Linked DNA regions of Homo sapiens: all the other regions are linked to region 1. The links come from fine-mapping of genetic effects on gene expression. A gene starts in region 1. Each other region holds a variant in brackets. All regions are shown on one strand. Distances are from middle to middle.

Region 1 (8,107 bases):
TAAGACGTGCCTTTCACCCTCTGCCATGATTGTGAGGCATCCCTAGCCACGTGGAACTGTGAGTCCATTAAACCTCTATTTCTTTACAAATTACCCAGTCTTCGGTATGTCTTTATCAGCAGCATGAAAATGGACTAATACACCTCCAAAATCTCATGTTGAATTTTAATCCCCAGTGTCGGAGGAGGGACCTGGTGGGAGGTGACTGGATTATGGGGTGGTTTCTAACAGTTCAGCACCATCCCCCTAGTGCTGTCTTGTGGCAGAGCTTAGGAAATCTGGTTGTTTGAAAGTGTGTAGCACTTCCCCCTTTGCTGTCTTCCTCCTGCTCCCGCCAAGTAAGGCATTCTTGCTTCCCCTTCTCCACCATGATTCTAAGTTTCCTAAGGCCTTCCCAGAAGCAGAAGCCTATACAGCCCAAAGAACTGCGAGCCAATTAAACCTCTTTTCTTTATAAATTACCCAGTCTCAGGTACTTCTTTATAGCAGTGTGAGAATGGACTAATACACCTTGTTCCTGTGTTAACTTCCATTTGGTGAGCAAATATCAAGGGCCAGTTGCTAAGATAGATGCTCTTGACATAGTAACTGGAGTTAATCCTCACAATAATACCATAAGGTAAACTGAACCTTTGCCTCCAATTACAGGGGGAGGAAACAAGATTGAGGAAGAGAACTAATTTATGCAACTAACTTATGTGGTAGGTAGAATAATGCCTCTCTTCCCCAAAAATGTCCGTATCCTAACTCCAGGAACCTGTGAAAACAGGAGACCTTGCATGGCAAGTGACTTTGTAGATGAGATTAAGGAGATTATTTTGGATTATTCAATGGGCCCAATGTAATCCCAGGGGTCATTGAAAGAGGAAGAAGGTAGCAGAGTCTGTCAAAGACTCATGACCGACAACAGAAAAAGAGGCAAGAAATTTGAAGAATGAGATGAAGACACGAAGGGTTCCCTAAGCCAAGGCACACAGGCGGCCTTTAGAAGCTAAGAATGGTCCTCAACTGACACTCAGCAAAGAAACAGAACCTCAGTCCTCCAGTCACAAGGACTATATTCTACCAGGAACCTGAATGAGCACAGAAACAGACTCTCCCCTAGAGCCTCCAGAGCAGCACAGAGCCCTGCCACCTTGATTACAGCCCTGTGAGACCTGTGTCAGACTTCTGATTTACAGAATGGAAAGATTAATAAACTTGTGGCATTTGAAACAGCTAAATTTGTGGTGGTTTCAGCAGCAGTAGAAAATTATTATAAGGCCGAGTGTGGTGGCTCATGCCTATAATCCCAGCACTTTGGGAGGCTGAGGCGGGTGGATCACTTGAGGCCAGGAGTTCCAGACCAGCCTGGCCAACATGGTGAAACCCTGTCTCTACTAAAAAAAATACAAAAATTAGCCAGATGTGGTGGCACTCACCTGTAATCCCAGCTACTTGAGAGGCTGAGACACGAGAATCGCTTGCACCCAGGAGGTGGAGGTTGCAGTGAGCCAAGACTGTGCCACTGCACTCCAGCTTGGGCAACAGAGAGAGACTGTCTCAAAATTAAAAAAAAAAATTATTAAAATTATTATAGCAACCTCTGAACTGGAAACTGGTAGAACAGCATTTAAACCCAGGTCTAAGCTCTGAGTGAACGAACCATAGTTAAACTCTAGTGGGGAGACGGGAGACTTCTTATAAATTCAGCTTCTGAAATACATTAGTTAAGCTGAGGTCATTAGAGAAGAGAGTTGACATCAGTGGTGTTTCCACAAGATTCACAGTTGCCCATGAGTATGGTTACTCCTCCTAGGAGCCTGAGGCCTTACAGACTGAAGAATTTTAAGGCTAGAAGTGTCCTCAAAATAAAACCCAATGTTTTTATTTTATAGGAAATTAGTGGAGGCCCAGTGGGATGAAATTACCTGTCCCAAGGCAACATGTTAGTCGCAAAACCACCCTGGATGGATCTTGTTTCTATTCGCCAGGGGCTGGCAACTCACAAGATACCTAGTGTCAGCAATGTCAGAGAACTAGAGCTTTTGAACCCCAGGTCTGCGTGTCACCTTGGAGACATACACAATACCTGCTCTAGCCATGCCTGTTGAAGCGCCCAGACAAACATCCATCACTCAGTTCACGGAACAAATTACATCAGCAGGAAGAGACAAAGAGAAAACAACCATCATAACGGAAAAGGCTTTCCAATCCAGCCAAGGTTCTCATGCCAGGAATAACCACTCCAAAACTCTTTGTGTGATATACATATAAATTCTAGGGTACATGTGCAGGATGTGCAGATTTGTTTCATAGGTAAACGTGTACCATGGTGGTTTGCTGCACCTATCAACCCATCACCTAGGTATTAAGCCCAGCATGCATTAGCTGTTTTTCCTAATGCTCTATCCCCACCCACCCCACCTGCCGACAGGCGCCAGTGTGTGTTGTTCCCCTCCCTGTGTCCAAGTGTTCTCATTGGTCAGCTCCCACTTATTAGGCCAGAACTCTTTGGACCAAACAAATCTGCAGCTTCCCCTACAAGGGCCTTTCCTGCAGTTTGTTCCGGAATGCCAATCCCTAACTCTCCAAAGAGTCCTATCTCCGCACTCACGGCCCCTCCCGTGTTAAGTACACATGCAAAACCAAGGTTTAGTGAATATGTTTCCTAAGATATAGGACATAAGTAAAAAGAAGTCTTTGCCTTTAGAAAGCCTCAAGCACTTCTGGGCTTGGCAATGTCTGTGGCGGTTTGGCTGAGGTTCTTAAAGAGGTGGCCCAGAATTTTCCATGCTCTACTTTTCAAGAGCTTCTACCAGCAGCTGTCAAAGATGAATGCCATTAGGCACCCCACTCTCTCACCCTAAGATCCATTTTATTTAGGCTTTTATCTCCTAAGCCACTCAGCTAATGGGATGTTTTTCTTACAGCTAAGTTCAGCAAACAGTTTCTAGTTTCCACTGTGAAAATACAGAGGCCACAAGTTTTAGGACTGTTTGGCTTGTAGGGGAGGCAGCCTCCCTTTCTGCCTCTCCTTCATAAACTGCCACGTAAATAGCCACATTTTGGCAAACGTTGCCATCTCCCTCAACATTCGGGGCTCTGTGCCTTCTTCAGGGAACTGGGAGTAAACCGCCAGGAGTGGAGAACTTGAACAACTGCTCAGGGATCGCAGGGTACCTGAAATAATTAGCAGCCGCCGCGTTTGTGCTGAGCGCTTTCCGTCAATCATCTCAACCACCCTGTGAAGTGAAGCCTATTGTTTTACCCATCAAGTGCTGTTAAATACTTCCAGAAATGACCAGTGAAGAGCCTGGGTATCACTAAACGGCCATAAAAGGCACACTGCTTAATGTTGGTTTTTTTTGTTTGTTCTTTGTGGGTTTTGTTCGTTTTTGAGGCGGAGTCTCGCTCTTATTGCCCAGGCAGTAGGGCAATGGCGCGATCTCGGCTCACCGCTACCTCAGCCTCCCGGGTTAATGTTGTTTTTTGAAAAGTCAGCAGTCAGACTCTAAGAAGGGTGCGGCCCGAGCCGACCCAAGAAAACAAAACATCACGTTGTACTTAAAACGTCCGTTTCGGCCGGGCGCGGTGGCTCACACCTGTAATCCCAACACTTTGGGAGGCGGAGGCGGGCGGATCACGAGGTCAGGAATTCAAGATCAGCCTGACCAACATGGGAAAACCCCGTTTCTACTAAAAATACAAAATTTAGCCAGGCATGGTGGCGCATGCCTGTAATCCCAGCTACTCAGGAGGCTGTGGCAGGAGAATCGCTTGAACCCGGTACACGGAGGTTGCGGTGAACCCAGATCGCGCCACTGCACTCCAGCCTGGGCAACAGCGAAACTCCATCTCAAAAAAAAAAAAAAGTCCGTTTCGCCCGACACCTGCTTTTCAAAATTACACATTTAGACCGCGAGGGGAGAGAGGAACTGCCGTGACCACGGAGGGCTGGCCTTTCCCCCGGCGCAGTTTCTCTGGACCGCTAGAGCTTCCCTTGAGACGAAAGCGATGGCAGGGGCCCGGGTGCGAGGCTGCCCCCGAGGGAATGGGGGGCGCGACGGGGGTAACGGGGCTGCTTCTGGGAGAGGGCGCGCTCCCCGTTTCTCCTTCCTCGTAGATAAAATGAAGCCAGCGTTCGGCTAGGACACCGGGCCGCGGTGACGGGTTGGAAGGGCCAGGCCTCGGGAGGCTCGCCCGGCAGGGGTCGAGTGGAAAGCGAGGACGGGGGTAGCCCCCACAGACCCTCCGCCCGGGCCCAGACTGCCGCCGCCACCTCGGCTCGGCTCACCCAAACCCCAGCAGGCCTTCGGGCCTTCTTACCTGGCGGCGCCCAAGATCCTCTTCCAGCCTCGAGCCGCTTCTGCGCTCAGCCCCCGCATTCTTTCGCTCCAGCCCGCAAGGCTCCGCCCCCCGGCCCCGCCCCTCAGGATGCCCTTGCCCTCCCAGGCTCCCGGCTCCCGCACCGCGCAGCCGCACCTCGGCAGGAACCTCCTCCTCTCCCTCCACCCCCGCGCGGAGCTCAGCCTCCTGGCCCAGGTTCTGAGAAGGCCGGGTGGCCAGGACCCAATGAGCACCTTCAAAACCCCAGGGAACTGAAAGTTTGGGGCGTCCTCCTCGGATTTGCTATGGGACATAAAAACAGTAGGAAACTTCCAAAGACTTCTGATTTTCCCTTTTACTTTTTTTTTAAGTATATTAAAATGTTTTTCAAAACGTTTCTGTGCGTCTTGCTGGTGCCCTGGGTGCCCCAGGGCCTGGCTATCGGGCTATGCGGCCCTGCTGCAGTCTGAAGCTGCTTCCTACTGCGAGGCTTGGGCAGCATCCAAATAGCCATCAGCCACAGCCGCATCCGTATCCGTGCCTTGTGACTTGTTTGAGACCCAAACAAAATGTTATGCGTTTAAAAGCTTACTGGGCTGCTCGGGGACCAGTGTTTTGAATGAACCTCTTCGAGTGTCTCTATCAACTTAGCTGGTAGCTACTGTTCCCCAGCAGCCACCAGAGGCAGGGACAGAAGAGCAAGACCAGGGGATCCGCCTGCATGAGTCTGTCCCTTCAGGGTGGCCTCGCCTCAGGGACTGGATTGTAGGCATGGTTTCAATAACACAGCGGTGTGAAAGTTTAAGAGTTTTTAGTACTTACGGACCCTGGGTGGTACACAGCTTGCCTAGAGGACACACACACACACACACACACACACACACACACACACACGGAGATCAGGGAGAACAGGGAGAGGGAAGGGAGGAACGGACCTTTGGGCCAGCAACTTTATCCAGTTAGGTTTCCTCTGGAGAGCTCTAACTGGTGGATTTAAAAGCAAGCAGGTGAAAAGGCAGAGGTGGGAGGAACTTGAACCAGAGTTTGAAGCTGCAGTAGTGCCCTGTTATCACATCACTGCATGTTTATCTCTGGCCACCAGCTAGAGCCATTTGCGTGGGGTATAGTACTGGAAACTGTCAATGGTGACTGAGACTTGCTTCTGTTATTAAAAGTTAAACATATTCAAAAATGGATGCTGAGGTAACAAAAAATTATAAGCACTCACCAGAACCGCAACCACCATTTGGAACATTAGTTTTATGTGCAGATGTAATTAGAAGTTTCCATTTGCTATTATATTTGGAAAGTGTCCCACTCACTGCAGAACTGACTGTAAGAACGCCATAGGAGGGAGGGTGGGGCTACAGGCCAAAAGTACAAGTCTTCCTCCAAGAGGATGGCCTCTGTTAGAAAGCATGAGACACACTTTGAGGGTCAGGGTGAGAAGATATTACATCTCAGGGCTGCTTGTGTTGAACTGGTCAGGGAAGAAGGCATGAGATAAAATTTAAGCAGGGGGAATCATAGATTACTGAATGTCTTGCAGGGAAAATCATATAGTAACTGTCTTGACGCTTCTACTGTTATTCTGATGGCTTTGGGATGTCAGGGAATGAGTTCCATTTGGTGGTGCTCAAATCCTGGTATTCCTCTATACAAGTGGGAGTTTTTTAAATCAGGATGACTTGCTTTGATATTTAAAGCATGTCTCCTTAAAACAGCTAATACTGTATATTTCCCAAGATGGATTCCAAAGCTCTTTTGTGTACATACCTTACACACATCCTGTTAGCTATTCCTTCCTTGACACGCTTGGCTTCTGAGATGCCACTCTCTCCTAGTTTGGTTCCCTAGAATGGTTTCTTGACCATTCGGTCTTGAGATTCTTTTCCTTTACCCACTAATAATTTGGTGTCCCAGGATTAGACTGAGAACCATGGCTGTGTGTGCTCCCTGGGAGACTATAGTGTATCTACTCTTTTACCTTGGGATGTATGTTTGCAGATGATTCAAAAGTCTGTCTCCATCCCTGACCACTCCCCCTATCTTCATATTCATATCCAGCTGACTGCTGGACATCTCCACTTATATGTTCCACAGACATCTTGAACTTAATGTGCACAAATCTGAATTCATCTTTAAAGAGTGACTGCTTTTCCTGAATTTTTTTCATAAATGAAGACAGAAACCTAGGAATCAACGTTGACCTCTTCCACTCCCTCACATCTACTCAGCCATTCCTGCCTATTTTACCATTTCAATATCTCAATTTCATTCCTTTTTCACATTGCTACTGTGCTAATTCAGATCTGTAGTTTGCGTTGCTTGAGCCATTACAATTCCTTAATACCAGGTCCCCATGTTGCCCATGTCAATTCCTGCATCCCCTGCCCCTTCTCTGCTTGCCCTCCACACGGCTGCTAGAGACCTGGCTAGTTTACCTCTCCAGCCTCATGCCTCACTTTTCATTTTCCACTTCATTTTACCTTGTTATCATCATCCTTTTGTGAATACAATATGCCTGCAGCAGCCAGTATGCAACCATGATCGTCTTTGAGAGGAAAAGTCTTGTGCTAAGGATGGCAGGTCAGAAAGATGGAGCCAATCTGGACTGTTGATAACACCACTGTGCCATCATGTCAGCCTTGAACTAGCTACCTCTGACTATTCGCAAGAATAACCACCCCCAAACTATTTAAGCTACTGTTAATTTAGGTATTTGTCTTATTCTAGTGATATATCAAGCCTCAGAGAAATTAGTAAAAAAAATCAGTTGTGTTTTCAAGGGTCCTCAGAGCCAGAAATGGCCTTTTCACCACCAAAAGTAGAGTCTGGTTTGGGCAACATTAATGCCAACTGTTAAATTCCTGTTACGTGTGAATAAGCATTCTTGCCAATAGCAGAAAATACAGAAGCTTGTTACCAACAAACTTCACGTTAGGCCGGGCGCGGTGGCTCACACCTGTAATCCCAACACTTTGGGAGCCAGAGGCAGGAGGATCACTTAAAGACAGGAGTTTGAGACCAGCCTGGTCAATATAGTGAAACCCTGGCTCTACTAAAAATGCAAAAAAGGGCATGGTAGTGCACACCTGTGATCCCAGCTACCCACGAGGCCGAGGCATAAGAATCACTTGAACCTGGGAGGCGGAGGTTGGAGTCAGCCGAGATCATGCCACTGCACTCCAGTCTGGGAGACACAGCGAGACTGTCTGAAAAAACAAACAAAAAACTACACCTCAGTATGAACTAGAGGTCACTCATTCAACATACTAAGAGAATGTGAATTCTGATGAGAGGATAAAGCAAATCAAAGCATTCTGAGGAGCAAAGGTTAGACAGGGTTGGAAGGGAGATTTGGGGCATCATAAGTACTCTGGAAATAGAGAGAGAGGTCATCAGAAAAGAGAAAGAAAAAATGGCAAGGGATTCCAGGGCCAGCCTTAATTGCCAAGATTTACTAGTTTTTGATTACTGCTTTATTGGAAAAGTTCGGTTTTGAAAAAATTAAGTGGTTTGACGCTATGGTCTGAATGTTTTTGTTCCCCCAAATTGTTGAAATCCAATCCCTAAAGCAATAGTATTAAGAGGTAGGGCCTTTAGGCTCTGCCCTCATGAAGGGGATTAGTGCCCTTATAAAAGAGGCCTGAGGAAGTTTGTTTGCTCTTTCCACCACATAAAACACAGCAAGAAGGTGCCATCTTTGAAGCAGAGAGTGGGTACTTACCAGACACCAAATTTGCTGATGCCTTGATCTTGGACTTCCCACCCTCCAGAACTGTGAGCAATAAATCTC
Region 2 (8,107 bases), 35 kb before region 1:
TCACCAAAACCTGTTCCACCTGTGTTCTCCTATCTTAGATTACCACTCTGTGCTTCAATTGCCTGATACTTCTCACCACACCCACTGCTACCCGCATGATCTTTTACTTGGTTAATTTTTAGAGACAGGGTCTTGCTCTGTTGCCCAAGCTGGCATGCCAGTGGCATGGTCATAGCTCACTGTAACTTTGAACACCTGGGGTCAAGCGATCCTTCCCACCCCAGCCTCCTGAGTAGCTGGGACTACAGGTGTGCACCACCACGCCGGGCTCAGCATGGTCTTTTTAGCTGGAATATTAATTACTACAGCCTCCTGACTGCTCTCCCTGCCTCCTTGCTTGCACCCCGGTAGTCTATTCATATCACAGCAGCACAAGTCAGATCCTGTCACTCCCCAGAAGGCTGTCTAATGACTCTGTCCCACTTGGAGTAAAGCCCAGAGTCCTTACTGTGACTATAAGGCTCTATACAAATGGGCCCCCTGTGTATTCACCCCTACCACTCTCCCCTCACTCCTCCTGCTCCAGCCATCTGGACTGTTTGCTGGTTCTCAAAAATGCTGCCATGCTCCCATCTTTGAAGCAGCCTTTGCACTGGCCCTTCTACCTGGCACATTCCCTAGGGTGTCACGTGGCTATGACCCTCAACCTCCTTCAGACCTTGTTTAAATAATACGTCTTCAAGAAACCCCATGTGAAATTCTGCCCTGCCTTCCTCTGACCCACCCTGGCAATCCTTACTCTGCTTTTTTTTCCCCCTTAGCATGTCATCTTCTATGATACCATATTATGATTTACTTATTTATAATATTTATTGTCTGTCTCTCCCCCACCCCCAATCCCAAGTGCCTAGGCACAAAATAAGCACTCAATAAATATTTCTTGAATATATGAATTTCTAGGAAGGTCCAGGGCTTTGATAAGATTATCAGAGAGTTTGTGGTCCAAAAAACATTTTAAAAAAAATGAAAACACCAACCACTTCCAAGGAGTAAATATGTTTGGGAAAAAAAACAAACCACACACCAAACCTCCACTATTCCAGTCCTCAAAGAACCTTTCTGAGCAGAGACACAGCAGTAGAACCAATATATACATTGCCCTTGGTTTCTCCCGATTCCTTCCTGATAATCTGTTGTTCTGGTTTGCATGACTGTGGTAGTGTTGGGGGTTCCCTCCCTGGTCTCGGGAGACCTTGAATGCTGGCTGGACAGCAGCTTCTAGACACCATGAGAGAGCTCCCTCAGCAGCACATAGAGAGGAGAGAGACCATGAGATTTACCACACAAAGTGGGCACTGTATGTGAAGTACATGCTGGTAGCAACAAGAACAGCGGTAAATACAGAACAGAAAATAACCATCTTTGAAATGACAACAAATGGGACACATTATCTAAGCACTAACACCTAAGGAGGTGGCTGCCCAAGCTCTGGTAGGCAGCTCCTCAGGAGAGAGAGGCCGACTTCTTTCCAGGTTGCTTGGTCTTCAGTCCTTGTAACTTTTCGTCTTTTAGCGCCTTCAGGAATGTGTCTGCAGGAGAGCAAAACAAACTTAGCCGTAATAGAGATAAGGGCTTTTCCTAACACTTCCAAAGCAAACTCTTGGGAAGCAACTGTGCTTCCTCGACCCTAAAACTCCATTTGTGATCCAAGATGGGAGAGAAAAAAACAAAAAACTGAAAACTCTGACTGTAAAAACATGTAACTGGTTCTGACTGTACATGCAACACATCCAGTTACATGTGTTTTTACAGTCAGAGTTGCTAAGTCCTGGATTTCTTCTTCTTCTAATTTTTTTTTTTTTTTTTTTTTTTTGAGAGGGAGTCTCACTCTTTCACCCAGGTTGGAGTGCAGTGGCACAATCTTGGCTTACTGCAACCTCGGCCTCCTGGGTTCAAGCGATTCTCCTGCCTCATCCTCCCGAGTAGATGAGATTACAAATGTGTGCCACCAAGCCCGGCTCATTTTTGTATTTTAGTAGAGACAGGGTTTTACCATGTTGGTCAGGCTGGTCCTCAATGATCCTCTTGTTGGTCAGGCTCCTGACCTCAAATGATCCACCCGCATTGGCCCCCCCAAAGTGCTGAGATTACAAGTGCCAGCCACCACACCCGGCCCCTGGATTTCTTAACTATGTATTCGGTTAAGATTTCTTAACTATGAATACATAGTATTATGTATGTATTCATAGTTAAGAAATCCAGGACTTAGCAAAGCCCAGTTTTTCTAGGGACTGTCTTCCTTCCATGGCTATGAGAAAGGGTGCATTACAGTGTGTCTGATGAACTGAAGACCATTTCCATGGCCACACGGACCTAAGCATTTAGGTTATTTCATACTTCCCTTCTCTGTGTGGCAGGGGAAGCCAACTTAAGCCGTTATATACGATAGTTGGAATGATCTTTTTAGAACTATCTGCCCTTCTCCAGTGGTCAAGGACAAGCCTTAGCCAAAACAAGTGATGGGAAAGACAAAGTCTGCAGGACAACCTACCGCTACTGAAAGTTCTACTTTGCAATAGGTCCTTCTTGGAGTACAAGGCATTTAACAACTTTACCCTCCAACAGGGAGGAGTCATTCAGCTCGTAGGCTGAGGGATCCTGCCCGCATCAGCACACGTGGTCCAGAGCCCTAAGACTTCAGACGTAAGACCAGATATCAGCCCAGGATCCTGGTGAGAGAACTACCGGCGCCAAGGCCACAGAGTCCCAGGGGGGCTGCCCCCCAGCATTGAGAAGTGGAGTGTCCCAAAGCTGCCCTGGAAACGGCCTTGGGCCTTGTGGTTCTTGCACAACTCCCACCTCCCCCTACAGACAACTGACAGTCACCTTACTTCACCTTCCCCCCATGGAGAGCCCCGGTTTAGGACCGAACATTAAAGCTTAGGGACTGTCTGTGGTGGGTGGAGCTCCAGAGTACAGGGTAGGAGGATGACTGTGCAGGAGGATTAAAGTTCAGGACGGGGTGGTGGCGGATGGAGTTCCAGGTGTGGAGGCTCAGAGTCCAGATGACCCAAAGGGTTTAGGACGGAGGGAGGATGGAGTTTGGGACTAAGAGGCTCATGAAGTTCAGATCTGTGGTGGGGGGAGGAGTCGGTTAAGTCCAGGATAAGGGAGTCTGGGTGCTAGGGGATAGATTTTGGATCTGGGACTACTGGGGGCTGGAGTCAAACCAGGCTACATTTCGGGTCGGGGCACGGAGCCAAGGAGGGAGCTAGGGCAGGCTAAGGCTGGGCTCGGTGGCCCTGGCGAGGTCACGCACAGCTCTGGGAGTCGAAGCCGTCCCCAGTGATGGTGAGCAACTCCAGCTCCTTAATCCGGATCTCCAGCTCGCAGAGCTCCTCCGGGTGGGAGGCAGAGGCGAGCCTGGGGGTCGAGGGGCAGGGGACCAGGGGCGAGGCAACCACCTCAGGCCCCGGCGGCGGTGAGTAGAAGAAGCGCAGAGGCTCGTAGGGGATGGAGGCCAGGCCGGAGGGCCAGGGCGAGGGCCAGGGGCGCTCGCTGGAGGGACCCAGGCCGGGTGGTGGCGGGGGCGGGGGCGCCGGGGCGGGGAGCGCCTGGGACAGGGACCGGGCCCCCGCCGCCCCGCCCACTGGCGCCCCGCCCGCCTTCAGCGGCACGAAGAGCTTCTTCCAGATGTTGAAGTCGCTGAGCGGGGACGAGGAGATGCCGCGGTCGTACAGGGACGGGAAATAGAGGGGCGGAGCCGACCGCTGGCTCATGGTGGGGCTGTGGCTGCCGCGCCGCCCCTTTGGCATCGTTTGAATGAGGGTCTGCGTGGGAGGAACCCCGCGCCGGGAGACGCGCGCTCAGGCCCCGAGTCGCCGGGGTTTCGAGGTTCCACAAGCCCCGCCCCGATGGAGCGCGGCCCCACCCTTTCGCCTCAGCCCGGCCCCTAACAGGCGGGGTTCCAAAGCCCGGACGACCAC[G/C]TCCCGGAACGCGGCCCCGCCCACCTCGGCTGGCCGCACCCCGCAGTTAGAAAGCCACGCCCCCTGGCTCGCCTCGCCTCGCCTCCCGTCCCTCGACTCCGCCCACCGCCTCGCTCTTGCTCTGCGACCCCGCTGGCTTCCGTTGTCATATCCCAGCATACCCTCATCCAGAACAGGCAGCGGGCCAGGGCTGCAGAAGAAAGCTTACTTCAGGCTTCCTCTCTTTCTCCCATGAGGGAGAAAAGTATTTCCTAGAAACCTGGCCCCTGCACCAGCAGACTTACCTCATTGCCTCACTGGCCGCGCCCACAGCAAAGAAGTCTGAGAAAATCAGTGTCTGATTTTTCATCCACTACTGTGGGAGGCAGACAAAGGAGAAGAGGATTGATTGGGAATGGCTGTTAGAGCCAACCTATGTATCTGCCAAACGTTAGCAGTGTTGAGGAAGATTCTAGAAAAGGGGATCCTCATCTGGTTTGTAATAGACCTGAAGGAGTGTTTTCAGTGAAATGCAGTTTAGTTCTCTTCCAAACACAGATATCACCAGGAGCTAACAGGCAACGAGCTAACCACCAAAAGGAAATCCTGTCCGCCCTACCTCAAATACTTCACCCATTGCTTATGAGCGATTTGGACATTTTGTCCAAAGGACATGACAGCTCATTTATGTGAGTAACCTGTATTAGCCATAGACTGAGGGGAAATAACTAATACATTTTCTTGAGAGCCTCTGCCTAATGATCACTGGTATGACTAGTGATGGGTGGAGGGCAGTTAAAGAGTCAGTATCAGCTTCACAAGTTAAATATATATATGCATATGTATCTGCACACACAGTGCAAAGTGTGTGTGTGTGTGTGTGTGTGTGTGTAGCAGCAAAGTGGAGAGAGTCAGATATTCAAGCTGGGTAGCCTTGGACAAGTTGCTTGACTTTTAAGTAGGTTTTCCATAAAATAGAAATAAGAAAACCAGGCTGCCTCATAGGGTTGTGATCAAACAGAAGACGGAACAGTGTGTGTGTGAAACACTTGAACTTGGACACTTTGTCCAAACACAAGAGGCAGCTGTCCCTACTAAGGGGCATGTCTGAAACTGGGAAGCTTTTTCTTCCCACACTGAGCTTCCCACACTTAGTTGTCACACGCAGTATTTGCTCTCTGACTTTGGCAGCCACCCATCATTGTTTATTCATACAAGTGATCACTAGGCTGAGGCTCTCAAGAAAATGTATTTCCCCTCAGTCTATGGCTAATACAGGCCATGTGCGATAGCTCAGCACCCAGCCTGTAATCCCAGCACTCTGGGAGTCTGAGGTGGGATCTCTTGAGGCCAAGAGTTTGAGAACAGCCAGGGGCAACATAGCGAGATTCTGTCTCTATAAAATAATTTAAAAAATTAACCAGGTGTGGTGGCATTTGCCTGGAGCCACTCAGGAGCTGAAGTGGGAGGATTTCTTGAACCAAGGAGGCTGAGGTTGAGGCTGCAGTGAGCCACAATCATAGCACTGCACTCCAGCCTGGGTGACAAGGCAGGACCCTGTCTCAAAATAAATAAAATAAAATAAAATAAAAAATACCCTTATCTTCCATTAGTTTCCCCCACATATTTAACTTCCCATAATTTACTGCCCAAGAAGCTCAAACCTCTTTTCCTTTGTCTTATCACTTTTCTACAATCGCCCATTGTTAAAATTGTATATAAGCTCTCAAGCCACTTCTTTGGGTTTTCACTTTGTTTCTGTAAGAACCCCATGTACCTGCGTAATAAACTTTGTCTTCTGTTAATCTGTCTTTGTCAGTTTAATTCTCAGGCCCCAGGCTCTGAACCTAAGAGATTAGAAGAAAAATTTTTTCACCCCTACAGAACCACAGTAATGGTAAGAACCAGGGTTTTGGACTCAAGACTTGGGACCAAACCCTGGATCCACTATGTATTTGGCTGTGCGGCTGAACCTTTCTCAACCTCATTTTTTCATCAATATAATGGGAATAGTAATGGCATCTACTTGCTTAGGTTGGCAAGACTAAGTGAGACAGTTTAAGTACCTGGCAATGGCTTGTGTTCAACATTAGCTCTTGTTATTACATATTAAAGGCCCTTAGAAGGAAAAGAGATTTTGCGTTATATTTTTTAAATGAAGCAATACAATCATTTTTTATGTATATATCTAGTTGAGGAGAAAAAATTACAGATTTTTTCCCCCTTACTCCAAGATAATCTAAACAGATTTTACTCTGGATGGCTTAATTATAACATAATCCATGAAGTTATAGCCAGGGGGTTAAATAAGAAGTTGATGACAAACTTGGTTTCTCTAACAAGTATGCAAGAAAACTCAAGTGCCACAATGAACACCCATAAACTGCTGTCAGGAGGCAAAGTCCCTATGAGGTAATAATAAACCCACGAGGTTAAGGCAAAACCCTACGGTTGTTTCTGCAAACAAATGTCCAGGAAACTCAAGTTTGTGATGAAAGAACAGTCTTGAATTCAACTTCAGCAGAACCTTTCCCTCCCTGGGCTCCAAAGCACTATGTCACCTACCTCTCCACTCAAATGCCCCATTAAGTACCATCCTGTTGGAGCTTCCTAACGCCCCTGCTCCCTGGTTTCATTTGGAACCAACTGAGAGACACAAGTCCCTCTTCGTTGATCAGGGTCAGTTGAAAGATGTAGCTGTCGGCCTGGTAGCCAGGTGGGCTTGCTAATCCTGCACCTCTACCTTAAGCTTACCCAGCGTGAGGCCAGGTTAGAAAGTCACAGGCCTTGGCAGCAGGCAGAGAGCCTTTACTGTCATAGTGAAGAGCTTGCCAAGGACAGGACTGATTCTTCCTCCAGCCTCACCTATCGGGGCAGTCATTGTTCCGCTGTCAGGAGGAGAGGGGCCAGAAGGGTCACACTGAAGAAATGTGACATGAGGGTGGAGGTTCCTGTCCAGCATTCTTCACTCTCTATTTAACCGAGGCTGACTCATTGCAGTTGGCACTAATTTTCCATTGCCACAGCCCTCTCCAGCCAGGAGGGCCTGGAGTACCTGAGGTGCTGTTTGCCGGGTTCCCTTGGTCCTCAGACTGCTCCCTTCAGAGAAAGCACAGAAAGCCTTCTCTGTCCCAAGGAGCCCCCCTTCCCCTCCCCCACTCCAGCTCTGCATCTGGACACACTGTCAGCCATCAGATCCTGACCAGGTGCTCAGCCTCTTTAGGGATATGTCACAATTTGCCGTGCCCGGTGGCTCTGGGCAGCCTTTGGACATGTAGTGGTTGTGTCTTGGAATACAAGAGTTGTGCCTGAATCTGGGACTCTCTGTGACCCTGGGAAAATCACATCAGCTCTCTGAACCCCAATTGTCTCTGATCTATAAAATGAAGACAGTATCTACTTCATAGGATTGATTTGATGGACATATGTATAAGCAGTGCCAGGGACAACTAGTAGGTGGTCATTGGAGTGTGGCTACAGTTATTATACAGTTACACATGGATTCCTTGATTCCCCATTAAGCCCTGGTGGATGAATGAGGAAAATGCAGCAGGGGGTCCATCCTAGAAAACCCAACCCACTCCAGATAATCGCGCCAGCCTCACACCTGAGAAGCTGCTTCTACGACCTGCTGAGGACATAATGATAAACACACACAAGAGGCTACTGTGTCCCAGGCACTTGTCTTAACTCATTTAACTTTTCTAACAACCCTAAACCTAGGGTTCTCATTTTCCAGATGAGAAAACTGAGGCATGTAAGGTTAAGTAACTTGCCTGAGGGTCGCCGATTAGCATCAGAGCCGGCATTTCAAATAGACAGGCCAGCTCTAGAGGCCAGGGTGTTTGGACAGCCTCCAAATTGTCACCCTAGCCTTCAGGGCAAGGCTGCACACACGGCCTCTAGTCTCCTACCCCTCTTCCTGGCAGGAGGCTGGCTCTGACAGGAGGTTGTTTGTGCCACAATTTAAGGACCAAGCTATTCTGGGAAGCCCAGAACAGTCTTTCCTTTATTATTCATCTCAATTAACCATTGTGTTGGTCTGGACTTGGGGGTGCAGGCATTCCCATCTCCCTTTCAAAAAAGTTTCTAAAAAATGCAGAGCAGCCTTTATTCTTGTTTTCCCAGGTAAATGTGGTCCTATGTACTTGCAGAGTAAGAATTTAAAAAAATAAACCTGAGAGGTAGTTTAGTGGAATAGG
Region 3 (8,107 bases), 48 kb after region 1:
CTCTATCTCCTGGACTCAAGCGATCCTCACACCCCAGCCTTCTGAGTAGCTAGAACTACAGGCTTGTGCCACCACATCCAGCTAATGCTTAAAAAAAAAAAGAAAAAATACTCTTTATACCTTTTCTACCCTTCTCCATGCCCTAGGAGGCTGATCTTTAGGTACTCCTTCACCTGGGCTTCTTTGTTATCTGGCTTCTGGAAGAGAAAGCCAGATAACAAAGAGAGAACAATGGCAGAGAAAAGTGACATTCAGGTATTTATACATCTCCACCTCCTGGGATTTTGGTTGGGGCTGTGTTCCTCGGTGGAGACAGCTCCTGTCAGCGCCCTCTTTCCTACCTCCAGCTCACTCAGCTCTGATGATACTGTTCCCTCCCTCCAGCTGCTAGAACTGTGCCTCTTGCTTTTTCAGGGTTGGTAACGGCTTCCCTCCCCCACCCCATTACTAATCCCTGGGCACCTCACTGTCCCGCATTGGTTCCCTTATCTGGTTCATAACTCTCTTAGTATTGTCCCCACTGAATTCTGTTTAGTTATGTTCCTTTGCATGTTTTGTCTGTTTCTTGAGAGGTCTCTGACTGATATCACTTGCCCTTATCCACCAAGGCAAGCAGTACTGTAACAAACTCCCCAGGAGTACATTGTACATTGTCAGAGAGCTGAACAAATGCTGACAAAATGAGAACTGCTGGTTGGGGCCAAACATTCCACTCTCTCGATGACCTCACCACCGAATGTACTACATGAACTCCACTGCATTCCAGCTTAGAAAAGCTGACCAAAGATGAATGGGCTTCCAAGGAAGAAGAAACAATTCAGCCACCCATCTTTTTTGGGGGCTTCTTGTGCGACAGTCCAAAAAGACATTCTATCCTCTATTAAAGTCAAAGTTCTAATCTTGTGGCCACTAGCTGCTGTTGGGATGAATGCCTAACCTCTGATTGGCCTGTTTTGGAAACATCACCCTTTATACCTGGAAATTCCACAACAGGCTTTATATACCCAATAATTAACTATATTTGAGAAGGGGACACCTATGGCAAGAAGCCTTGAAAGTGATCCAGGCATCAGTAAAGCAAACCTTGTCCTGGAGCCTCCTATCTTATTCAGATGGAATTACAGATATCAATGATCAATCACACAGTGATTACAGGCTTTGGAAATGAGACTCCACCTTCTTACCAAGGACAAGCCTGCAAGGACTTTCTTCTGCTGCTGTGCCTGAAACTAGCCCCTTCTGGAAAAAGAGAATGTCACTGAAAGGAAAAATGATGACTTTGCCACCTGACATTGTCACTTTGCATTGGGTCCTGTCCGAACTGAGATACCCAGAAAGTTCTGTAGCAATATGGAAATGGCACTTACAACCAATGGCACCTACAACTTGAACCTACAAGGTTCAAGTCTGGTCCCCAATACCTTAGCCAACTTCAGGAACAACAGGTGGCTGCCCACCCATTAGACATGGAGAGACCCACCTACTGTTAAACCTAAGCTGTTGGCCTATTGGGGCCTCTTTGACAAGACTTGCATCTGACAAGAAGCATGGTTCACTGTTGAAATAGCTTGTCTCTGAGATGGGCAAATTCCATGGAATACCAATGCCATAAATTGCTGAGGCTCACAACGCTTGCATGCTGAATAATTGGCCAAACTTCAGGTGCTATTCTTGGCTGTAGAGCATACTGCTCCCAGATTGATGGAAATGAACCTTTACACAATATGTCAATTAGGATTCTCCAAAAAACAAATGTGAAGATAGGATTAGATTCATGAGAGATATATTCGGGGGCTGGGCAGAGGGCAGGAAAGTCTTATGAAGGATAAAAGAGAGGAAGCAGGAGTAGGCAAGGAGTGCCTTCAGACCACGATGCAGGTCTGACACCTGTGAAAAGAGAAGATGAAAGAAGGCGGATTTGGCAGGGAGAGTCTCGGGTTGGACTGCAGCTCTGAGAATGTCTCAGACAGGCCAGTGGAGAGTCCTTGAGTCAAAGCTGCCTGGTAGAAAGTCCAGAGACACACAGAATTGGCCTGCACTAATCCCCTGCCATGCTCAGCCATTGGCTAGGAGCAGCCCAGGGGAGGTATGGTTTTGATGCAAAAGCATGGTGAGCCGCAGACTGGCATTGTCTGTCAACTGTGCTACCTGCAGCAGGAGATCTGAGTGGCATATTCCCATGGCCATCACACACAGAAACATCAGTAATAGCCTAGCTATTTAGTCAGGCCATGGGCCACCTAAAGACTGAATTAATAAAGGCACATATTAATTATGTGCCTTTGGGACATAATTATGGGATCTCCCCATTGAAAAGATTATAAGTGACAAAATCTAGAGGAAAACAGCTGCCTGAAAAGACTGATCAAGCATATATGGGCATCATGTCTACCTACCACAGCCCATTGAATCTATGCTCTAACTCACCACAGTAATGGAACCACCCAAAAGACCAGGGATACCCAACCAGGAATTCTTTCATCAACACACATAGTAGCCACTGTTACTGAAAAAGCTCATACTCTTGGCCAACTGTGCCAGTCTGTCCATCGGTGACCTGATGATGTCTACAAGCCTAGTAGGTTTAGCTGTTTTGGGCTACAAGTTACACAGCACCATACTACCTTCTGCCTTGGCCAAACAACTAGGCACCCAGGACTTGAGGAACAGGCAGAGGAGAGTATAATCAGAAAGAGGACACTCTCTCCTCACACTCTTTTTTGGAATAGCACACAGTTGAGAGTATCCAAGTACTTTAGGGGAACAGAAACCATGCTAGGTATTTCAAAAGAGATTTAATACAAGGAATTGTTAAACATATATGGGAAGGTTGAAAGAGCAAAGGATGAATGCTGAGCTAATCCAGAAATCAAGACAGTGCTATGGTCTGACTGTTTGTGTCCTTCCAAACTGCATATGTTGAAATCCTAACCCCCAAAGTGATGGTTTTGGGAGATGGGGCCTTGGACAGGTGATTAGGTCATTAACAGGATTAGTGCCCTTATAAAAGGAACTCCAGAAAGCTGCCTTGCCTCTTCTACCACGTGAGGGCACAGCTAGAAGGTACTATCTATGAACCAGGAAGTGGGCCCTCAGCAGTGAATCTGCTTGGCACCTTGATCTTGGACTTCCCAGCCTCCAGAATTGCGAGAAACAGATTTCTGTTGTTTATAAGCTATCCAGTCTACAGTATTTTGTTACAGCATCCTGAACAAAGACAGACTGCCAGAAATAGTTCTCACCATAGGGCTGTGGAAGCAAAGGGGAAAAGATCTTTGGTTATAGAACCTCAGGGCTAAAAAGAGGAGCCATGGGCTCCCTGAGGGCCTAATGCTCTGCTCTCTCAAGAGAGGTCCCACGAAGTTGGCGTTGAGATCTCTGAAAGAGGACACCTCACAGCTGGTGCTTGTATCTCATGGCAGGTAACACACAGCAGATGCTCAAAACCTTGAAGGTAGGGTTGCCAGATTTAGTGCACACACACACACACACACAGACACAGACACACACACACACACACAGGCACACACAGGCTCACACACCACCACTGCCATCAGCATTACCACCACCAACAAAAAACAAGGGAAATAACTGAACTAAAATGGAAAAAAAA[C/A]CCCAAAAAAATTAAATTTGAATTATTTGTACTTGCCTATGCATATATACTTTGAAATAAAATAAGAATACCACATAAAGCATGATAAAAATCATTCTTTATCTGAAATAACTGAAGAAGCACATAAATTACCTACCTCTTTATTTAATTATACTTCCCTGATGATTTGGCTCTCCTTAAGTTTTCTTAGTTTTGCAGAATTTGTTTATAAAATTCCTTGCATTTACTGTCTATATTGCATTTACATTGTAACAGTTTATACAGTGTTCATAGCCAACTTATTCTTTTGCCCACTGAACATTCATTATTGAGAAAACATGCTCAACATAGCATTATGAGCTGGTATACTGAATATCTGCTGGCTGTCACTGGCTGAATTTCACAAGCTTGGGGCTATCAGTGATTTACTGACTTTTAGATATGTGGTTATTAGAGTGAGTCTGTCACTGGTTGATTTTTCAGACCATAAGTGATCTCTAATTAATGCTGGTTACTTGTTCATGACTTGAGACTTGGACCAAATAATCATCTTTGCCTTTCTTTCCTTTTTTTTTTTTTTTTGAGACGAAGTCTCTCTCTGTTGCCTACACTGGAGCGCAGTGGTTTAATCTCGAGGCTCACTGCAAACTCCGCCTCCCGAGTTCAAGCGATTCTCCTGCTTCAGCCTCCTGAGTAGCCAAGATTACAGGCACTCGCCATGATGCCTGGCTAATTTTTGTATTTTTAGTAGAGACGGGGTTTCACCATGCTGGCCAGGCTGGTCTCAAACTCCTGGCCTCAGGTGATCCACCTGCCTCGGCCTCCCAAAGTGCTGGGATTACAGACATGAGCCACTGCACCCTGCCTCATCTTTTCCTTCCTTGAATATGAAAAATCAGTACTTTTTCCTCTGAATCCCCACTTTTGGTCTACTCTCAGCCAAATCTGCAGTAGAGACCATATGGACTTTATTTGCAGAGGTATGGGTTTTAGTTATGTTGCGTTTAGGTTACTTAAGATTTAACTACTATGGCAGAAAAGTAGCTCTAACTGGCAATATTTTGTTGTTTACTGAAAGATATGAATAGAGGGCATTTAGGGCATCCTGACAAAGTCAACACAGGATACAGGACACAATCAGTAAATACAGGACATGTCCTATGAAGAGAGGACCTACTTGAAGAGGGTGCCTCTTGTTTGGTACTTGGACCTTTGATATGGGACAACCTCATACCTAATGCTTTGGATACTGAAAGGGAACTCTGGGGCTGGGGTTCAGAATGCCTGAGGACCTTCAGAGGAAGGCCTGCAGAAGCTGAAAAACAGCGAGAGAATCCTCCTCGCTCCCTGCTTTCCATTCTTCTATGAGTACCTCCCAGTATCTAAAAGCAACTCAGCTTGTTAAAGCATCAGGGAAATGTAGTGTTCAGCCTTCCAGGCCCCACATCACTGAGATTATGCAAGGGTAGGCCCAAGCTAAGACACAAGAAATAATTAATTAACACAAGCAACAATACCCTCCTCCCATTTAGACTTCAGGGAATGGATGGAGAGTTCTCATAACTCAGATCGAGGACACCTTGATGAACATGGACGCTGACTTTGCTTTGGATAGCTCCCATGGTGCCTTATTCCTTATATCACTCAGTTTTTTTTTTTTTTTTTGCCAAAAAGAAAAAGACAGCTTTATTCAATAAATGGTATATGGAAAACTGAATTTTGGCAAACAGAAAAATAAAATTGGACCCTTATTTCAACACTATATACCAAAGTCAATTCAAAATGGATTAAAAACATAAAGATTCCTGTATTAGTTTGCTCAGGAAAATTGTCAACAAGAAAAAGAAAGAGAGAGAGAGAGAGAAGAGAAGAGAAGAAAAGAAAAGAAAAGAAAAAAGACTTAAACATAAGACCAAGAACCCTAAAACTACTTGAAGAAAACATAGGGGGGTCAGATGACAGCTGAAAGAAGGAAGGAAGGAAGGAAAGAAAGAGAAAGGAAAGAAAGAAAACATAGGGGAAACATACAAGACATTGGTATGGGTAATGATATTTTGGATTTGATCCCAAAAGGACGACAAAATTAAATATAGACAAATGGTATTACATCAAACTAAAGAGCTTCTTAGTTCATGATGTGTAGCTAAAACAAACTAAAAAGCTTCTGCACAGCAAAGGAAACAATCACCAGAGTAAAGAGACAACCTATGGAATGGGAGAAAATATTTGCAAGCCAGACATCTGACAAGGGGTTAATATCCAATACATATAAGGAACTCAAACAACTCAATAGCAATGAAACAAACAAACAAAAAAGCAATTAAGGCCTGCTTTCTGCTGACCAAGTCTTCTTCCTTACCCCTCCCTAATAAGAAGGAAGAAAAAAGGCAATTAAAAAAATGGGTAACTCCTCCTTAATATAGTGGTAAAATTTAAACATTAAAAAAGTTTTGGGGCCAGCTCGGTGGCTCACACCTGTAATCCCAGCACTTTTGAAGGCCAAGGTGGGCAGATCGCCTGAGCCCAGGAGTTAGAGACCAGCCTGGGCAACACGGCAAAACAATCTCTACAAAAAAAAAAAAAAATTAGCTGGGCTTCAGCCATGTTTGTGTCACTGCACTTGAGCATGGGTGACAGAGTGAGACCTTGTCTCACAAAAAAAAAAAAAGCTTTAAGTTGTAAAAATGGGTAAGATAAAAGAGAAGGAAAGAAAAAAATGTGTAAGGAACCTGAATAGACATTTCTAGTGATGTTTTTAAAGCCATGAACCCATTTTGGCACAAAGGCTTTATCATATGCAGTCATTGACAAAATTTTTTTGTAAAGCCATCAGATATAAAGGTGTGAATTTTCTCACCTGAGTACATGACAAGAAAACGCTGAAATCAATATATAAATAAAATCATCTGTACTGGCACTGTTAATCTAGAAGAAGGTGGTTGCATAGAGAATAACAAAAATTTAGATCAGCTTATTGAAGTGGGAAAAGAAAAAAGAGCTTCAGAGGTAGGCTTTGCCTCTTAAAAAAATTAAAAATATAAGTCACTGTCAGTGTTGAGCTTGGGAGTTAGTAGCCAAAAACAAACAAACAAACAAACAAAAAGAAGTCATCGTCTGTGAAAAGAAAAGAAGAAAAAAGAAAAAGACTTTGCATCCATTGAAGTATGCAGAAAAAGAAAACAATTTTTAAAATAAAATAAAGTGGGTATAGTTGGGAGCTTAGCCATGGACATACAGAATGGAGTAATAGACCCTGGAGGCTCCAAAAGGTGGGAGGATGGCAGAGGGATGAGGGATGAAATCCTACCTATTGGGTACAATGTTCACTATTCTGGTGATGAGGATGCTACACAATATACTTCACCACTATGCAATATATCAAAGCAACAAAACTGCACTTGTACTCCTAAATCCATAAAAATAAAAGATTATCTTGGCTGACACCTCTTTAAAAATAATAAAATAAAAAAATAAAAATTTTAAAAGAGAATAGTAAGAGCAGAGCAAGGACATTTAGTCTATACTTTCAAATGTGCTTGATCATTTGAAACAATAAAGTTGTTCACTGAATCTTCACAAAGTATTATAAAAAAGTTGTTCATTGGCAGAATTTCCCAACAAGTTAGTATAGATTACATGCTCTTTGATAAAAGCAACAATATAGTTAATTTTTTTCCTCTTTAGTATTTGCTTTAAGAGAAAAATCCTAAATTTCTTCAGAGGAGGGAAAAAAGAGAGAGAGAGAGAAATCCTTAAGACTTGTAGGGATTTTTGATTACAGTAAACCATGAAATATGAGAGTATATTTAGCAATCACGGTGATTTAGCTCATGGTAATTGGCATATGTATAATTATAATTTGCATTACAGTTATTTAAACTGAGATATTCTTGATCAGGTTGAACACATTGTGAGTAGAAGATCTCTTTCCCCAGGAAATAGGATGGAGAGAGTCTTTGGAGAATGGCCTCACTGAAATGCTAAGTCAGCTTCCTCCAGATTTTGGTAATTTCCCCACTTCCTCTGTAATTTCTCAGTGCCCTGGCCATTTTCTGGTAAGTCATGGTCTCCTTGTTGCCTTTTGTTTTCCCCCAGAGCTCGGCAAGTTTTTCTTTGTTTTTTGATACAAACTGAAAGATGCCTTTGGTTATATCTACCCACTGAAAACAAGATGCCATCTCTGGATTACACAGGGATTCGTGAAGGTATTCAAACAGTCAGAGCTTCTTCCTGCCTTTTCCCCTTTTGCTGGAGAACAGTGGGTTGTACCAGCTGGTTTTCAGTTATGTTCTGCAGAGATTGATGAATATTTCCTTCAAAATAGAAGTCCGCAGCACTGTTAATTACCATTCTCCAATTATAGACAGGCTCCTCTGTAGGCAACACTCCATAGCAGCTGGAATTTCCTTTGACATGAGGACGATGGTTGATTAAAGCCAGGTAATTTTTGTAATCTGGCGAGTACTGAAGATCTCCAGTTGAATGTTGCCTCAGAACCTCAAAAGCATCCTCAAA
Region 4 (8,107 bases), 46 kb before region 1:
TCAGAAGGGAGGATCACTTGAGCCCAGGAGTCTGAGGCTACAGTGAGCTATGATAGCATCACTGCACTGTAGTCTGGGCCACGGAGCAAGACTCTATCAAAAAAAAAAAAAAAAAATGACATGGAACTCACTCCTAGAATCATATGGTAAGCTCATGGAAAATAAGATTATATTTGGGGAAAATCCATAAGTCTCCTCCTGTACCAGCTCAAGGACAGTGTCGTTAAAGTGATGCATGTGCATGATTTGCATGTGATGAAATCAGGAGGGAACTTGCCCGTCCCCACTCTGGAGTCCATACCCTTGGCAATTAAGACGTTTGCCCACACAAACATTCTCCATATCAGCTGGCTGCTGTGGGCTAAAGGACAACAGGGAAAATATAATAGTTTGAAGCCAGTCACTGAAGAAAAGAGCTAAGAGTTTAAGACTTCAGGCTTTGGAGTGGCTCAGCCACATCCTAGCTAGATGCCTCTCGATGCCTCTATAAAATGGGGGCTGGGGCCATTTTCCTCATGTGTTGGGATGTAAATATTGATGAGATGCTGTATGTAGGGTGCTGAGCCCAGGGCCTGGCACTTGGCAATTCCTCAGTAGCTGGCAATTGCTAGCTGGCAGGGCTTGGGAGAAGCTCCAAGGGTGTCTCTAACCCCCTGACTGGACTCTCCTGTGCTCAGACACCACCACATCTTTTCCAGTGCTCTAACGGGCCCGTTAGAATGGTTGCATTAAACAGACTATAAAATGACATCAGTCCCTGAAATGCACCTAAAATAAACAGTTATTATGGACTGGATTGGGGAGGGCGCAGTGGACAATTCATATTTGCACATCATCCTTGTTTCTGTGTAGCAGGTTACACAATCTCTGCCAAGAGCCTGCTCATATACACGCATGCATACACCCAAACACGCATACTCACATGCCACACACTGGACAAGTGGGCCTATTCTGATTGTCCAGTGACTCTTCCTAAGTCACCTCCAAGAGAGAGAAGAAGGGACCTGGATTCCTGGAGGACTGCACAGAAGAAGAAGCTGCCAGCTGGAGCCTTGCAGGGAGGGAATAGGCTCAGCCATTGACCCCCTGTGTCAGCTTCAGCAGTGACTTCATTTCCCTGAGCCTATTTCTTCATTTATAAAGATGTGCCATTTTGCCTGCCCCCACAACAGTTAACTCTGGAAATCAAGCCTGCATGAAATCCCAAATATTACCTCTTCCCAGACTCAACACAATCTAATCAATTAAGAGGGGAAACTGCAGATATATTCTTCTATTCAGATCTGAGCTGTCCACTATGGTAGTTACCAATAGCCACGTGCCTATTTCAAGTTAAATTTAAATAACTAAAGTGAAATAAAGTTTAAAATTCACTTTCCCAGTTGCACTAGCCACATGTTAAAAACTCAATAGCTACATGTGTCTGATGGTCACCATAGTAAATGGCACTGATATAGAACATTTCTGCCATTTCAGAAAGTTCTATTGGACAGTGCTAAGATCATCCCAACATTAATGGCTAGTAATAACGACAGACAATAAAAAGATAAACAATAGTCTATATAAATAGATATATGTCTGAATAATAGGAACTAGGTAGACAAACAGAAGAGTACACAAAAACTAGAAATACATTGTAGATAATGCTATGAACTGAATTGTGTCCCCCGCTAAATTCATATATTGAAGCCCTAACCCCCAAAGTGATGGGATTTGGAGACAGAAACCTTAGACAGAGAATTATGTTTAAATGAGGTCATGAGGGTGGGGCCTTCATCATGGGATTAGTGCCCTTATAAGAAGAGAAAGAGACACCAGAGCTCTCTCTTTGCCATATGAGGACTCATGAAGAAGGTAGCCATCTCCAAGCCAGAAAGAGTCCTCAACAGGAACCAAATCAGCCAGCAGGTTAATCTTGGACTTCCCGGCTTCCAGAACAGTGAGAAATGAATGTCTGTTTTTTAAGCCACCCAGTCTGTGGCATTTGGTTACAGCAGCCCAAGCAGACCAATACACATAGTAAGAGTCAATGAGTTCAGCCCAGCTTCTCTTGTTCATGTGAACTGAACTTTTCATCTTGAAACCAGTTCTACAAAGAGCAGATTTTCCCTGGGTGAGTAAGATGTGGCTCTCAGCAGACAGCCACCTGCAGGCCTCTGGGAAAGGCCAGGTGCTGTGCCTGTTTATTTTTGCAATGAAAGCCTTCAATGGCTGTAGTGTCTCCTCCTCCCAAAAGGTTTCTAAATTGGATTTTTCCCTAGGTTATAATGAACAGGCTAATAAATGTCAGCCCTGGATGTGAGAGGACTAGAAAGGGGAGACCGTTTCATCCCATGTCTAAATCCATGCTGCCACCTGGTGGATCCCACTATAAGAGAAATGTGGGGATTTTGTGTTAATGACCAGAAACCTTGTTGCAAATTGCCCAGTGAACCCAAAGAGGCAAAGATGATGGTGAGCATTAGCTGTTTGTCACATCATGAGCTGAGCAGTTTACATACATATCTCAGGTAACTGGCAACAACCCCAGGCTGGGGGAATTATTGTGCGCCTTTTCCAGATGAGAAAAAGGGCCTAGAGAGTTAAGAATCTATTTTTTTTTTGAAAGAACAATTGGATGAATAAATGAGTAAACAAAGGAGTAAATGAATGCAGGCTTAGTTTATATGCATTGTTTTCAGAGTTACAGAATGTTTGTACTGGATTCAGGTAAACTCTGAAATGACAGTGATAATCCTGGCTGACTCTGTGAATGAGTAGATGGAATAATTAACATCTATTGAGTACTGGCTTTGGACTATGCATTGTTCTGAGTACTTCATACATATTAACTTACTTCAACCTTATAGCAACCTATGAAGTGGGGGTACTATATAATCTCCTCATTTTATAAATGACGAAACAAAGACACAAAGGTTAAGCAGTTTGTCCAAAGTCACACAGCTGGTGTGTGCTGGGATTTCAACCCAGGCAGTATGACCCCAGATCCAGCAATTATATACCACTTCTCAGATAAAAAGAGCTGTCTTAGGCCTGTCTCTGAATCTTGGTAAAGAACTCAAGGTACATCTTGACCCCATCCCCAAGCCTGTCATAAAGGCACTTGGCCCAGATGAGTCCCAGGATATTGCATCTAGATCATCCTTTCTTATCATTTTATGCAATTGACGTTTCCACCATAAGTCAAACCACAAGGCTGAGACTGCATTTTCCCCTCTATCCGCAGCCAGCAACGTGCTCCTTAAGCACATGGAGTGTCCACTTTGTGCAAAACCGTGTGCTCAGGATGACGATGATGACAACACAGGCCCTACCCTTAAGAAGATCGCAGTCGAGCTAGGGAGACATACTGATGGGCTATTATAATCCAGGTAGTAAGTCCCAGGAAAGGGGATGCCCAGAGTACAAAGGGAGCTCAGAGAAGGGACACATAGCCCAGACTGGGGACTGGAATCAGGGAAGGCTTCCTGGAGGAAGTGACATCCATGCTGTTGGGAGAGGAGCACTTCCCTTCAGCTTCCTTCCAAGAGCAGTACGGGAGTCCTGGCCTCTTCCTGCCTCTTTACCCGCCCAATGCCCAGTGATGGATGGGGACTTGTGATTCATAATTTGGGGAAGAATAAACTGGGCATACTTAGCCACACCCTGCCATTCCTCCTGGCTTAAGTAAAG[A/G]GAGTGACTGGCAATGGGTGTCTTTGATAATGAGCAACAGAAACTAAACTAAGGGAAACTAAGAAAGGTGTCGTCCGAACATTTAGAAGGAAAGGAATGAGGTGTTGCCACTGGACAACTCAGCTCCAACTACCATTTCTTGGGGAGAAAATATGAGAGACGGAGAGCAGCCTGCTCGCGATCATGTGTACTTGGAGCCTGATGCCACTCTTGTGAGTTCCCTGGGAGCCAAGTTGGAAGGAAGCTGACTGCAAAAGGCAGGAGGATGCAGTGAAAAAGAGATGGGAGGGGAGCTGCCTGGGCTCCTGGTGGCTTCCAGGCCCTGGTGCCAATTGCGCGAGGCCCATGAGGGAGCCATGTATCTTTGGCAGCCAGGGTCCTTCTTTTGGGAAGCAGCTGCTCCACAGTTCCAAGTGGTTCTGGTGGGGATGCAACCACAGGACCCTGGCCACCTCCTCCGCAACATGGACAGAGATGGAAACGTAGCCCGAGCTGGGCCAATCACATTTTCTAAGAACTGGTAGTTGGAGCTGAGTTGTCCAGTGGCAGCACCTCATTCCTTTGCTTTCCTTGTTCAGATGATGCCTTTTTAAATTTCCCTTAGTTTAGTTTCTATTGCTTGTGATCCAAGAAGCCCATTGCCAGTCACTCTCTTTACTCAAGTAAGTCAGTTTGAGTGGCCTGTTTCCCCCCAAAACCAAAGAGCACCTGGAATAGGTGATACTTCAGCTTTGCATCATAGATTTTCTGGATTCCTATTGTCGATTGAAATTACAGCTGTTTCACCAGAAATAACTTGATAAATGTTTATTGGAAGCCAAATGTGAGGATCGACCCAGGAAGACACACCAACAAAGCTGGGAGTGTCCTAGAGTCTGTTACAAGTTAGAAAGCTTTTATGGGAAGGTTTAGAAGAGGGGAGGAGGACTCTTCATACAAAGAGTTGTCTTTTTGTTATTGGAAGGTATAATAGAGAGATTAGTCACTGGCTACAGATGACAACCTACAGGCTAAAATGTCTACGGGCAAGACAGCAAAGTTTCATGATTCAGAAACAAATCAGCAAAACTTCATGATTCAGAAGCAAATCAGCATCCTTTTCCATGTCAGGCATGCATTAACCACTATGTCAACAGTTTAAGGAAATCACGATAAGATTCCTTACTCAGAAACAGGATGTCCTCATGAATCACAAAACTTCTGCTAGGTGGGAAGTCTGACAAATGCAAGTTATTACTATTTAGTCACTTTCATGGCAGCTCGGCACAGATATGTTCTCGGATATGCTCATGCGCTGGTGTGGACAGAATGACAGGATTGGGTGGTGACCATCCACCCTTCCTTTTGGGGACTGCCTACAGAGAGGCCATGCCCTTGGCCTTGTCTGTTGGGTGTGGGCCATGTGATACTGCCTGGGAGGAATGTGGTTGGCTCCCTCTAGAAAACAAACCCCTCTTCCCCAAACTGCTTCCCAGCCATATTCACCCCCTTTGTCGCTGCTTATGGGGCTGAGCTCCAGGGCCTGCGCATTGAATGCTTCTCCCTCCCTGTGGACTGGGCCTCCCTCCAGCTCACATCTCGTGGCCACCACCACTTCCAGCACCAGTGACTCAACAATGAGGGCTGTGTACTACACAAACAGGAAAATAATATTAAAATGATTCCCAGTTTGGGGCAGTTTCACATCTGTCATTTTTTGTTGTTGTCCCCACTCCCAGCCCCCATCCTGTGAAAGCAGCGTCTCCATTTGCCTGATGTGGAAAGAGGCTGTGAGAGGCTGGGTAACTTTCCCAAGGTCGCAGATCTGGTTAATGTCAGAATCAGGACAGAGTTCAAAGGAAAAGGCCAATATTCCCTGAGGCACCAACAAGGTATTTACCTCCAGTGAGAACAAAAGCCGTAAAGCAGTAATTAAATGTCTCTTCCTTCTGTTCCCAGCTGACTTCCACTGAACCCTGCCTGACCGCTTTGGCACAGAGGGTGGGCACAGGTGACTTGGATAAGGTAGCAGGAGGTCTTCCCATCACACTTGAAGTCTATATTTCTCTCAGGAGTAATAAGCTTATGATGAAAGGATCATGATATAAAGAGCTGGTTATCTGTTCTATCAGGTTTCATGCTTCATCTTGCCCAAACAGTCAGCACTGCAGAAGGCCTTCAGCCTCCATCTACAGGCCTCTACCTCAGCTTTCCCTCTACCCTAGTTTCTTGAAAGTAAAGATCGCTAATTGATCTGACTGGCCAGAGTCCAGGACAATTCCTTTGACCCCACTTTCCCAGTGGATAGGTTTACTACATCTTAAAGGTCAGGACATGGGGGCCAGGTGCAGTGGCTCACACCTGTAATCCTAGTGCTTTGGGACGTCAAGGCAGGAGGATTGCTTGAGCCCAGAAGTACAAAACCAGCCTGGTGGTGAGACAAAGTGAGACCCCCACCTCTACAAAAGAATTTAAAAATTAGCCAAAGACTTGGGAGGCTGAGGTGGGAAGATCACTTGAGCCCAGGAGTTCGAGACTGCAATGAGCTAAGATCACACCACTGCACTCCAGCCTGGGCGACAGAACAAGACTCTGTCTCTAAAAAGCATTAAAAAGAAAAAATAAAGTCAGCACGTTGGGCTTTCCTTCTTCCCTGAGTTCATGCAATAGTCAGACCCAGGACAAGCCTGCCTCCACGGACGGGTGAATCAGGCTCTTGTCTGCCTCTTTCCTGTCTGGCACTGAGTGGGCAAATCAAGCCAGAGGAAGCAGCGAGCTTCATTTATACCATCATCCCAGCTTTGAATGCTCCAAAACAGCTTTCCTTCTAGCTCAGCCACAAATAAAGCGGGGCTTTTGTTTTTCATGTCGCTGGTGGCGTGCTGGTAAACTCTTTTCAACCAGCTCTTCTCAGTGGAGGTCCGAGGGAGCCAACCCTGATTTGTACATTTGCCAATTTCCTTGTTGTAAATACACTCCCCGTGGCCAGTTTAAAAAAACCCCACATGACATCATTCAGAAGATATGCACATTAGCACACCATTATGTAGTATTTCGACCACACAGACACAACAGGCATAAATGAGCTCAGGAGTACAGATGATAGAGAACTGTAGCAAAATAATTAGGAAGTGATGAATTGTGAATATTTGTTACCTTCGTCTTAAATATGATTTAATTAAAAGTTGATATGGTTAAATTTTTAATAATGGTTGTATTTAATAACCAGCTCATAACATTCCTGAAAATTTGGCAATTAGTTCTCGTGAGCCCATAGAAACTGGCTCCGGCACACCACTGCATTTATCTATTATTCCTTGCATGTGGTGTTCTCTCAATCAAGCTCTCTATTGCTTTCCTCTGCCAAGCGCCCTTTTCTTTGAGGAACAGCCTCTTTTGTTTCATTTTGTTCTGAGGGGCTGTCAATTACATGACAATTACATCCCACCAACCGACGGTAACAGGACCTGTGCCCAAAGTTAGTCCAAGCCATGGGGTGACTGGGGAGGTGGCAGGCCTGAGTGTGGGCATTTCTGGGACCTTGGCTGTAATACTACCAAACTATCAACCCCATTCTCTCTTGCCAAGTTGTGGGAAGCAACCTAGCCAACACCAAAACCACCCCCTACCAGTATTTACATGTATTGGAAGACCTGACCTCACTGTGCTCCCCATCTGTCTCTTGCAGGGGCTCCCTCCCTGCAGGGGCTCCCCCTCAGCAGGGTCACTGTGGGCTACCTGTGGCCCTAGACAAGGGTCACACTTATGAAGGACCCTTTCCACACAGCCCTGTCTGTTCTCAGGTTCTGGCAACCACTCCCTCCTCTCACACCTACCCGCCTAGGGTTAGCAACAGCTCGGTGGGTGATAATCCGCATTCCCTGCCTGCACCTTTGTAAACACTCTGTCTTAGTCCATTCAGACTGATATAACAAAATACCATAGACGGGGTGGTGTCTAAACAATAGAAATTTCTCATAGTTCTGGATGCTGGGAAGTCCGAGATCAATATGCCAGCAGATTCGGTGGCTGGTAAGAGCCAGCTTCCTAGTTCATAGAAGGTAGGAGTGGTGAATAAGCTTGCTGGGCCTCTTTTATAAAGGCACTAATCTCATTCCACCCTCCACCCTCATAACCTAATCACCTCTCAAACATCCCACCTCCTAATACTATTGCACAGGGGATTAGGTTTCAACATATGAATTTTGGAAGGACACAAACATTCAGTTTATAGCATAATCCCTTTATTAAACGCTCTTCAAATTAGCCAATTTGGGTGTTCCACGCATTTCCTGCAGGAACCTGGTGGACCTCCCTCTGTACTCCCCACACTGCTCTGTTCATTATGCTCACAGGAGGCTTTGTGGGCCCAGCGGACCAGAACACAAGCTCTGGAGTCAGCCCTGAGTTTGAATTCTACCTCTCCTATTTACTAGCTGCAATACCAGACTCACAT

Alleles and levels. Alleles are on the strand shown, and positions count from the first base shown. SD is a standard deviation of normalised expression in the study named. Not every link is listed here.
In carriers of allele A in region 4, the expression in esophagus mucosa of the gene that starts at base 4,350 in region 1 tends to be lower than with G alone (small effect, 0.36 SD a copy in GTEx).

Evidence for each region.
Region 2: its variant is fine-mapped to the expression of CD59 in whole blood (TOPMed, PIP above 0.99).
Region 3: its variant is fine-mapped to the expression of CD59 in whole blood (TOPMed, PIP above 0.99). The same link has a PIP of 0.9 or more in blood mononuclear cells.
Region 4: its variant is fine-mapped to the expression of CD59 in esophagus mucosa (GTEx, PIP above 0.99).

The regions. Positions count from the first base shown.
Region 1 is chr11:33,732,074-33,740,180 of GRCh38, forward strand. CD59 (CD59 molecule (CD59 blood group)) reads right to left here and starts at 4,350. Exons shown (of 4, transcript NM_000611.6): 1 at 4,309-4,350. RefSeq lists an enhancer at 380-509 and a silencer at 3,999-4,468.
Region 2 is chr11:33,696,986-33,705,092 of GRCh38, forward strand. C11orf91 (chromosome 11 open reading frame 91) reads right to left here and starts at 3,841. Exons shown (of 2, transcript NM_001166692.2): 1 at 3,260-3,841; 2 at 1,276-1,529. The coding sequence starts at 3,755. The coding sequence ends at 1,444. It overlaps CD59 (CD59 molecule (CD59 blood group)), which reads right to left. Exons shown (of 4, transcript NM_000611.6): 4 at 6,025-8,107. RefSeq lists silencers at 3,507-3,596, 3,777-4,016. The variant G/C (reference allele first, on the strand shown) is at 3,927.
Region 3 is chr11:33,779,653-33,787,759 of GRCh38, forward strand. It overlaps the pseudogene SPICP1. Among named protein-coding and RNA genes, the nearest start is that of FBXO3-DT, 9.0 kb to the left of the region's middle. The variant C/A (reference allele first, on the strand shown) is at 3,614.
Region 4 is chr11:33,685,727-33,693,833 of GRCh38, forward strand. No RefSeq gene overlaps it. Among named protein-coding and RNA genes, the nearest start is that of C11orf91, 11 kb to the right of the region's middle. RefSeq lists an enhancer at 4,401-5,600. The variant A/G (reference allele first, on the strand shown) is at 3,673.